2 separate regions of the Homo sapiens genome follow, and region 1 is linked to region 2. The links come from fine-mapping of genetic effects on gene expression. A gene starts in region 2. The other region holds a variant in brackets. All regions are shown on one strand. Distances are between the middles of the regions.

Region 1 (4,386 bases), 140 kb before region 2:
GCATCTCCAGGGCCTGGGCCACCCAGGCATTTCCTGGCCTATTCTGGAGAGGGACAGCTATATAAAGAATCAGCTCCTTGACAACAAAATGGATACCATTTAATAGATGCAGGGGCTAAAAAACACACTGCTTACATTTGTATAGAGTGTACATCATCATGTAAGAAAACACATTCTGCCTTTAGGAATTAAACAGCTGCATTTTGTAAGAGATACATATGTTTGAAACATGTTCATTGACAAAATACTCCAGTCTTTCTGGATTAGTCCTTACTTGGCAATTTGTAACAAGAACTAAAAAACTGGGCTAGAGGCAGTGGCTCACACTTATAACCCCAGCACTTTTAACCCTAGCACTTTGGGAGACCAAGGCAGAAGGATCACTTGAGCCCAGGAGTTCGATAACAGCCTGGGCAACATGGAGAGACCCCATCTCTACGAAAAAATTAATACTTGGCCAGGCATGGTGGCATGTGCCAGTGGTCCCAGCTACATGGGAGGCTGAGGCAGGAGTATCGCTTAAGCCCAGGAGCTCAAGGCTACAGGGAGCCATGATCGTGCCACTGGACTACAGCCTGGACAACAGAGCAAGACACTGTCTCCAAAAAAAAAAAAAGCTAAAAAACTGGCTGAACTCTGTGAGGGGGTAACTTCACTTTAGGAGATGGGCCCCTAGGAAATAAGGAAGTCAGTAATGGCCCAAAGCAGTGTCACTTGGGAACTACCCCAGAGCACAACGGAGGAGAAGGGGCTCAGTTCACTAGGAGGGTTAAGCAGCAGGCACCCACCTGAGCTGCTCAAGTGATCCACATACAAACAGGTTGAGCTGGGGACGGCCTCTACTGAGCGTGCCTATACCCTGGGTGCTGGGACCCTGTGGAGGCAATGGAGTATTATGGGTACAAGTACAGGTCTGGCTTCAGAGTCCCATCCTCCTCTGTAAAATGGAAATGAGGCTGGTCGCGGTGGCTCATGCCTGTAATCCCAGCACTTTGGGAGGCCAAGGGAAATCACTTGAGACCAGAAGTTTGAGACCAGCATGGGCAACATAGCCAGACCTTGTCTCTACAAAAAACCAATTTTTTTAATAAAGAGGGAATGAAATTTGCAGTCAGTGGTAAGCTACCATTACTATAAGCATGACACACACAGGCAATAGTCGCTCTACCCCCACTGCAACTGGGCACAAATATTTTTGGCAGGGTGTGGGGGACGGGTACAGAGAGGCATATGCGTGGCTTCAGGGGCTCCAGTTTCTGAGGCAGTGGTGGGAAATGGGATGCCAGTGTGCCCAACGCCATGTGGAAGACAGTCACCTCCAGCCTGGGAGGAAGACGTGGGGAGAAGTTGATTTGGCCCAGATCTGCCACTCAGATGCCTGCTTTGCAGCAACTCACGCTCCCTGGCTCCATATCACAGCCTGTCATGACCACGGTCCTCTTTGTGCCTCTGGAGATGCCCTAGCCACCTTTCCGGGCAGTCTTAGTCTTGGCATAAATAAATGCTGCTATGGTCTGAATATCTGTGTCTCCCCCAAAATTCATCACCTCAAGGTGAAGGTATTAGAAGGTGAAGTCTTTGGAAGATGATGAGGTCGTGATGGTGGGCCTTTTGAATGGATTTAGTGCCCTTATAAAAGAGACCCCAGAGAGATCCCTCACCCCTCCTGCCTCTGAGGCTACAGGGAAAAGACAGCCGCCTAGGACAAGGGCCCACACCAGACACCAAATCTGTCAGCGCCTTGATCTTGGTCTTCCCAGGCTCTAGAACAATACACTTCTGTTGTTTACAAGCCTCCCAGTCTATACAACTTTCTTTTTTTTTTTTTTTGAGACGGGGTCTCGCTGTGTCGCCCATGCTGGAGTGCAGTGGCACAATCTCAGCTCACTACAACCTCTGCCTCCCAAGTTCCAGCAATTCTCCTGTCTCAGCCTCCTGAGTAGCTGAGACTACAGGTGCACACCACCAC[G/A]CCCAGCTAATTTTTTATTTTTAGTAGAAATGGGGTTTCACCATGTTGGCCCAGCTGGTCTCGAACTCTTGACCTCAAGTAATCCATCTGTCTCGGCCTCCCAAAGTGCTGGGATTACAGGCATGAGCCACCACGCCCAGCCGGATTTTCTTATGGCAGCCCAAACAGACTAAGACAAATCCCATTTCTCCTGAGGTCAGCCAAACAAGGTTAGACTACTCCCCAGAAGAATGTTCCTACAAAATGAGAGAGGAGCCCTGGCGCAGTGGCTCATGTCTGTAATCCCAGCACTGTGGGAGGTTGAAGTGGGAGGATCACATGAGTCCAGGAGTTCAAGACCAGCCTGGGAAACAAAGTGAGAACCCATCACTATTAAAAATAAAAATTAGCAGGGCACAGTGGTGCACACCTGTGGTCCAGCTACACGAGAGGCTGAGGCAGGAGGATTAATTGAACCTAGGAGGTCAAGGCTGCAGTGAGTCATGTACTCCAGCCAGGGTGACAGAGTGAGATCCTGTCTCAGAAGAAGAAAAAGAAGGAGAAGGAATTAGAGGAGAAAGAAGAAGGAGAAGAAAACTAGAGAGGAAACAGAACTAAGAAATTGAAATGCAGGCCAGGCACGGTGGCTCACACCTGTAATCCCAGCACTTTGGGAGGCCGAGGTGGGCGGATCACCTGAGGTCAGGAGTTCCAGACCAGCCTGGCCAACATGGCAAAACCCCATCTCTACTAAAAATACCAGAAAAAAAATTAGTTGGGTGTGGTGGCGGGCGCCTGTTACCCCAGCTACTTGGGAGCCTGAGGCAGGAGAATTGCTTGAACCCTGGAGGCAGAGGTTGCAGTGAGCCGAGATCGCACCACTGCACTCCAGCCTGGGCGACAGAGGGAGACTCTGTCTCAGAAAAAAAAAAAAAAAGAGAGAGAGAGAGAGAGAGATAAATTGAAATGCAGCCACCTGGAAATATGAGGGTTTCCCAAGGCCTAGAATATTTGATATGAATCTGCCCAGAGTAGACTGGCAGCCTCCCAAAGCCTCCTCCTCACCTCCTCCTCATCTGTACCCACTGGCTTGGCAAGAAGCCCTCCCTTCCAAAACCTGTTTCCTCTGGCCTTGAGCAGTAGCAGCCCTGCCCCTAGATCTTGGCAGGACCAGTGTGTTCTGCTTGAGCTCTTGAAGAGGAAGAGAGTCCTCCCCAGAAAGTCCTCTTTGGGCCCTTGACCCTCCCTCAGAGATAATAAGACCTGCCAGGCAGAATTCTTGTGAGGATTAGATATTGAGCTTGAATTAGATTAGAGCTTGAATATACACATACAATCTTTGGAAGGACCCATAAGAACCAGGCATCAGTAACTGTCTTTGGATAGATGAATGGAGGCCTAGGGAATGAGAAGTAGAGGAAGCCACTTTTCACTATAAACCAATCTCTCTCTATTGAATGTTTTTACTGTATGCACATATTACCTATTTGAAATTGAAAGCACAATGCCATTTATATTAGCACCCTAAAAATAAAATTCTTCACTATAAATCTAACAAAATATGTACAAGATCTGTATGAGGAGTACTATACAACCCTGATGAAAGAAAGCAAAGATCTAAATAAATGGAGAGATATTCCATGTTCATGGATAGGATGATTCAATATTGTTAAGATGGTTGTTCTCCCCAACTTTGTAGATTCAATGCAACACAATAAAAATCCCAGAAAGTTATTTTGTAATATCTACAAGTTGATTCTAAAGTTTACACAGAGTAGCAAAAGACCTAGAAGGACAACACAAAAAAGAAGAATGGAATTAGAGAACTGACACTCCCTGACTTCAAGACTTACTTAAAGCTATAGCAATCAAGATAGTGTGGTATTGGTGAAAGAACAGACAAATAGATCAGTGGAACAATAGGGAACCAAGAATAGACTCACACAAATATAGTCAACTGATCTTTGACAAAGGAGCAAAGGCAATTCAATGGAAAAAGGATAGTCTTTCCAACAAATGGTGCTGGAATGATTGATCATCCACCTGCAAGAAAAAAATCTAGATATTGCCAGGTACACTAGCTCACACCTCTGATCCTAGTGCTCCAAGAAGCTAAAGCAGGAGGATTGCTTGAGGGCAGGAGTCTGAGATCAGGCTGGGCAACACAGCAAGACCCCATCACCACAAAAAAAGAAAAAATACAAAAAAAATAGCCCAGCATGGTGGCATGCACCTGTAGTCCCAGCTACTCGGGAGGCTGAGGTGGGAGGATCACTTGAGCCCAGAGTTCAAGACTGCTATGAGCCACAATCATGCCACTGCACTCCAGCCTTGACAACAGAGTGAGATCCTGTCTCAAAAAATAACAACAACAACAACAAACTAGGTACTAAGAAATCTTGATTCTAAGGTCTGACCTTAGACCTTAGACCTTTCAC
Region 2 (4,386 bases):
TGAATGATAATCCTTCCAGCCAGGCAAGGAAGCAGGAGAGTTTAACCTGTCCCTGAAGGAGGAAGGACTGGAAGCTCTCAAACATTCTCTGAGTTAAAGACTGTCCTGAAGAAGAAAAAAATCAGGGAAGGCCTCGGGAATCAAGCAAGGCTGAGGGACATCCCCTGAGAGATTAACAAAAAAGGTAAAATGATACAAGTAGCTAATACATATGGAGTGCTTTTTCAGGCACTATGGCAAAGGCACATCAGTGTCACTTCATATGACCCACCCAACAGTCCTAAGAATTGGTTCTTATCTCACTGAAGCTCTAGACAAGAAAACTGTAGTTTAAAAAGCAGAAACATAGCTATTAGGTTGGTGCAAAAGTAATTTTGGCTTTTGCCATTGCTTTAATAGCACAGGCAGGCTAGGCTTTTGTTTTGTTTTGTTTTGTTTTTGAGAAACAGGGTCCGGCTCTGTCACCAGAGGGCGGAACGCAGTGATGTGATCACAGCTCACTGCAGCCTCAAACTCCCGGGCTCCAGCGATCCTCCCATCCCAGCCTCCCAAGTAGCTGGGACTATGCATGAGTCCTGCTAGTTTTTTATTTTTTGTTGAGATGGGGCCTCCCTTTGTTGCCCAGGCTGACCTACAACTCCCGGACTCAAGTAATCCTCCCGCCTTGGCCTTCCTAAGTGTTGGGATTACAGGTGTAAGCCACCATGCCTGGCTTTTTTTTTTTTTGAGACAGTCTCCCTCTGTCGTCAGGCTGGAGTGCAATGGCGCGATCTCGGCTCACTGCAATCTCCGCCTCCCAGGTTAAAGTGATTCTCCTGCCTCAGCCTCCCAAGTAGCTGGGATTACAGACGTGCACCACCACGCCCAGCTAATTTTTGTATTATTAGTAGAGAGGGGGTTTTGCCATGTTGGCCACGCTGGTCTCAAACTCCTGACCATAGGTGATCTACCTGCTTCCGCCTCCCACAGTGCTGGGATTACAGGCGTGAGCCACCTCGCCCGGCCTTTTTTTTTTTTTTAATTAATAGTTTGCTGGAGTTACACAATCTCAAGAGGTCCTGAGAAAGTGTGCCCTAAGGCCCTAAGGTTCTTTTGTTGTTGTTGTTGTTGGTTTGTTTTGTTTTGTTTTTGAGACGTAGTCTCGCTCTGTCGCCCAGGGTGGAGTGCAGTGGCGTGATCTTGGCTCACTGCAACCTCCATCTCCTGAGTTCAAGCGATTCCCTCGCCTCAGCCTCCCAAGTAGCTGGGATTACAGGCATGAGCCTTGGCGCCCAGCCTCTACCCACTTTCAATACAGCCTCATCTGCTGAGATCAAGTTGAAATATTTTTTAGTGTCCTCAGCCCCACGCTGTCCAAGACTGGGATAGGGTTGGGGAGCCAGAGATAGAATAAAGTACTAAGAACTCTTCATATGAACCTTTTGAAGACAGGTGGGTCAGGGACTGCACATTTTAGAACTTTAAAGAGGAAAAAAAGGCTCACGGAGGACTCTGACTTGCTGCCTTCTAAATAACAGACCGAAAGAAGTTACTTGGGAGTAAAATCGTTTTGTAAATTACCCAAGAGCACATCATTGAGATTTGTGCATAATACTGAGCCCTGGCCGGGTAAACTGAGAGAGGAGAAGCGGCCTCAAAGTAAAATCAGAGCAGCGCCGGCATCCAGGGCCCCACCTGCCTCAGGGTGAGGATCCTCTGAGGCCCGCATCCCTCCCGGTCCCAGCTGCCAGCAGGTCCGGCCGCACCAGCCGGGTCGCGGGGCTCCCCTTGGAAGACCCAGGCCAAATGGACGCGGGAGCGTAGAAACACCTGTGGGCTCCCGGGGCACCGCAGAGCTCCCGGGGACTCTTCCCTGTCAGGACCCGGGCGGCCCGCGGGTCGACTCGGTGCTCCCAGTCAGGGAGGGTGCACCGGAAAGCTGAGGGGGCGCAAGGGGCGCAAGGGGCGCAAGGGGCGCTGCGGCGACCCTCGCGGACTGACGTACCTGCCGTCGCCCGGCGCTCGGCGGAGCGGGCTCTTTAACGCGAGGCTGCGCGACCCTCGCGGTGCACTCCGGGAAGTGTAGTTTCACCTCCGCGCCCCCCCAAGGCCGAGCCCCCGTCCGGCAAAAAACACGGTCGGAGCCACCGCATAGGCCAGCGTGGGTGGCCGGGGCAGCGCTTTCCTGAAGGGCAGCGGGGCTGCAATCCAGAAGGGAGATGGGAAGGGGGCCGCTCCAGGACCCACGAAACTACAACTCCCAGAGGACCGAAGCGCCTTAAAGACAGAGGCCCGTTTTCTGGGACTCCGGGATCCAGGTTAATAGGTTAATGTGTAGCTTTTTTGTTTGTTTTCTCGTTTGGGTTTTTTTTTTTTTTTTTTTTTAACACCTTCTGGACGGCACCAGGAGCTTCCGCTTTCCTCTGGAGAAAAATCCACTGATGGAGGAAAAAAAAAAATCACGCTTTGCCCAAGCGGAAGCAGCTGCCATTCGATTTGCAGTTGGAAAGGTTTGCGCTGGTTTCATCACGTGGATCCTTTGGGAAGAAACTTTCCAACTCCGTAATGGGGAGGGGATCTGCGGACCTTTTGGGAAAGTTGTGAATGGCAGCATTGATTGTCATAGATGACAATTGGAAATACTCTGAGTGTCTCTCTCTAGGTTACTATGTGAAAGGAAAATAAATCTCAGGACCCCAAAGTCACTAAGTCAAAGGGAAAAGTCAAGCTGAGAACTGCATCAGGGAAACCTACCTCCCATTTTATTCTTAAACAAGATAACTACAAAGATAAAAAAGCTAGATATGGCCTGGCCCTCACAACTTGCCCACTAGGAAATTCCTTGTGTGCCCCCAAATCTGTACCCTAAAACAGTTGTGTGGAATTTCAGTGACAATGTAAATTTATAGCTTATCTTCACAGGTGCTGGGCTTTGACAGCACTGAAAGTCATCTCTCAGCTCACCTGAGACAAATGCATATCTCATTGCTTCCTCTGCCCTATGTTTATTTTTTCTTATGTAAAAATGCATATTCACTGAGCTAGATGAATGCATAAGTGACTAGTCCTCTATCCCCCTCTAACATGTGAAAGGCTTATCAAAGACTCAGAAGAATGCAGCCATTTGCCTCTTACCTACCCATGCCTTTTAAAAATTTCCTCTTTCAGGCCAGGCACGGTGGCTCGCACCTGTAGTCCCAGCCCTTTGGTGAGGCCGAGGCGGGTGGATCATGAGGTCGGGAGTTGAAGACCAGCCTGGCCAATATGGTGAAACCCCGTCTACTAAAAATACAAAAATTAGCTGAGCGTGGTGGCGCGCACCTGTAGTCCCAGCAGCTTGGGAGGCTGAGGAAGGAGAATCGCTTGAACCCGGGAGGCAGAGGTTGCAGTGAGCTGAGATTGCACCACTGCACTCCAGCCTGGGCAACACAGTGAGGCCCTGTCTAAAAAAAAAAAAAAAATTCCTCTTTCCCCAATATCTGACCTTTCCCCTTTAAATATTGAAGCCCTCAAAATCATCTTTGGAGAAAGGTACAGACCTGTCTCCCAGGTGCACACATTCTTAACTTTGGCAAAATAAACTTGTAAATTGATTGAGACCAGTATCTGGTGCTTTTTGGTTTACAACTGGAAAACTAAACTAGGCACATCCATGCAAGACAGATGCTCTATATGTTCAGTAGGGAGTGATGTTCAGGACATCATGTTAAGGGAAAAGCAGCAAGTTGTAGAGCAATATGTATGGGAAGCCCCTCAAATAAAAAATAATGTTTATGGACAGATAGTGTGTGGATACACAGGAACAGGGCTGGAAGCGAACGCATGCTAGGGAGAGACTGCTAAGCATGGGGACAAGCGGGGAGAACTTGAGCTTTATCTGTATTGTTTGAATTTTTCTTACAAGAATGTACTTTCCAAATCTGTTGTTAATAAGGAGCCTAAAGCTGGGCACAGGTGCTCACGCCTGTAATCCCAACACTTTGGGAGGCCAAGGTGGGAGGATGGCTTGAGCTTGGGAGTTTGAGACCAGCCTGGGCAACATAGCAAGACCCCGTCTCTAAAATATATATAAATTAGGGCCGGACGAAGTGGCTCATGCCTGTAATCCCAGCACTCTGGGAGGCCAAGGCAGGCAGAAAACTCGGGGTCAGGAATTCAAGATGAGCCTGGCCAATTTTTTTGTTATTGTTGTTGTGAGACAGAGTCTCACTCTGTTGCCCAGGCTGGAGTACAGTGGTGTGATCTCGGCTCACTGCAACCTCCGCCTCCCAGGTTCAAGTGATTCTCTTGCCTCAGCCTCCTGAGTAGCTGGGATTACAAGCATGTGCCACCACGCCCAGCTAATTTTTGTATTTTTAGTAGAGACGGGGTTTCACCATGTTCAGGCTGGTCTCCAACTCCTGACCT

What was found. PIP is the estimated chance that this variant, and not a neighbour inherited with it, causes the effect.
Region 1: its variant is the best candidate, but not a certain one, in a credible set for the expression of FCSK in sun-exposed skin (GTEx, PIP 0.77).

What each region holds. Positions count from the first base shown.
Region 1 is chr16:70,593,455-70,597,840 of GRCh38, reverse strand. It overlaps a transcript of IL34 not described here. Among named protein-coding and RNA genes, the nearest start is that of IL34, 51 kb to the left of the region's middle. The variant G/A (reference allele first, on the strand shown) is at 1,970.
Region 2 is chr16:70,452,229-70,456,614 of GRCh38, reverse strand. FCSK (fucose kinase) reads right to left here and starts at 2,020. Exons shown (of 24, transcript NM_145059.3): 1 at 1,985-2,020. LOC124903708 (a long non-coding RNA gene) reads left to right here and starts at 2,079. Exons shown (of 2, transcript XR_007065104.1): 1 at 2,079-2,297; 2 at 3,148-3,578.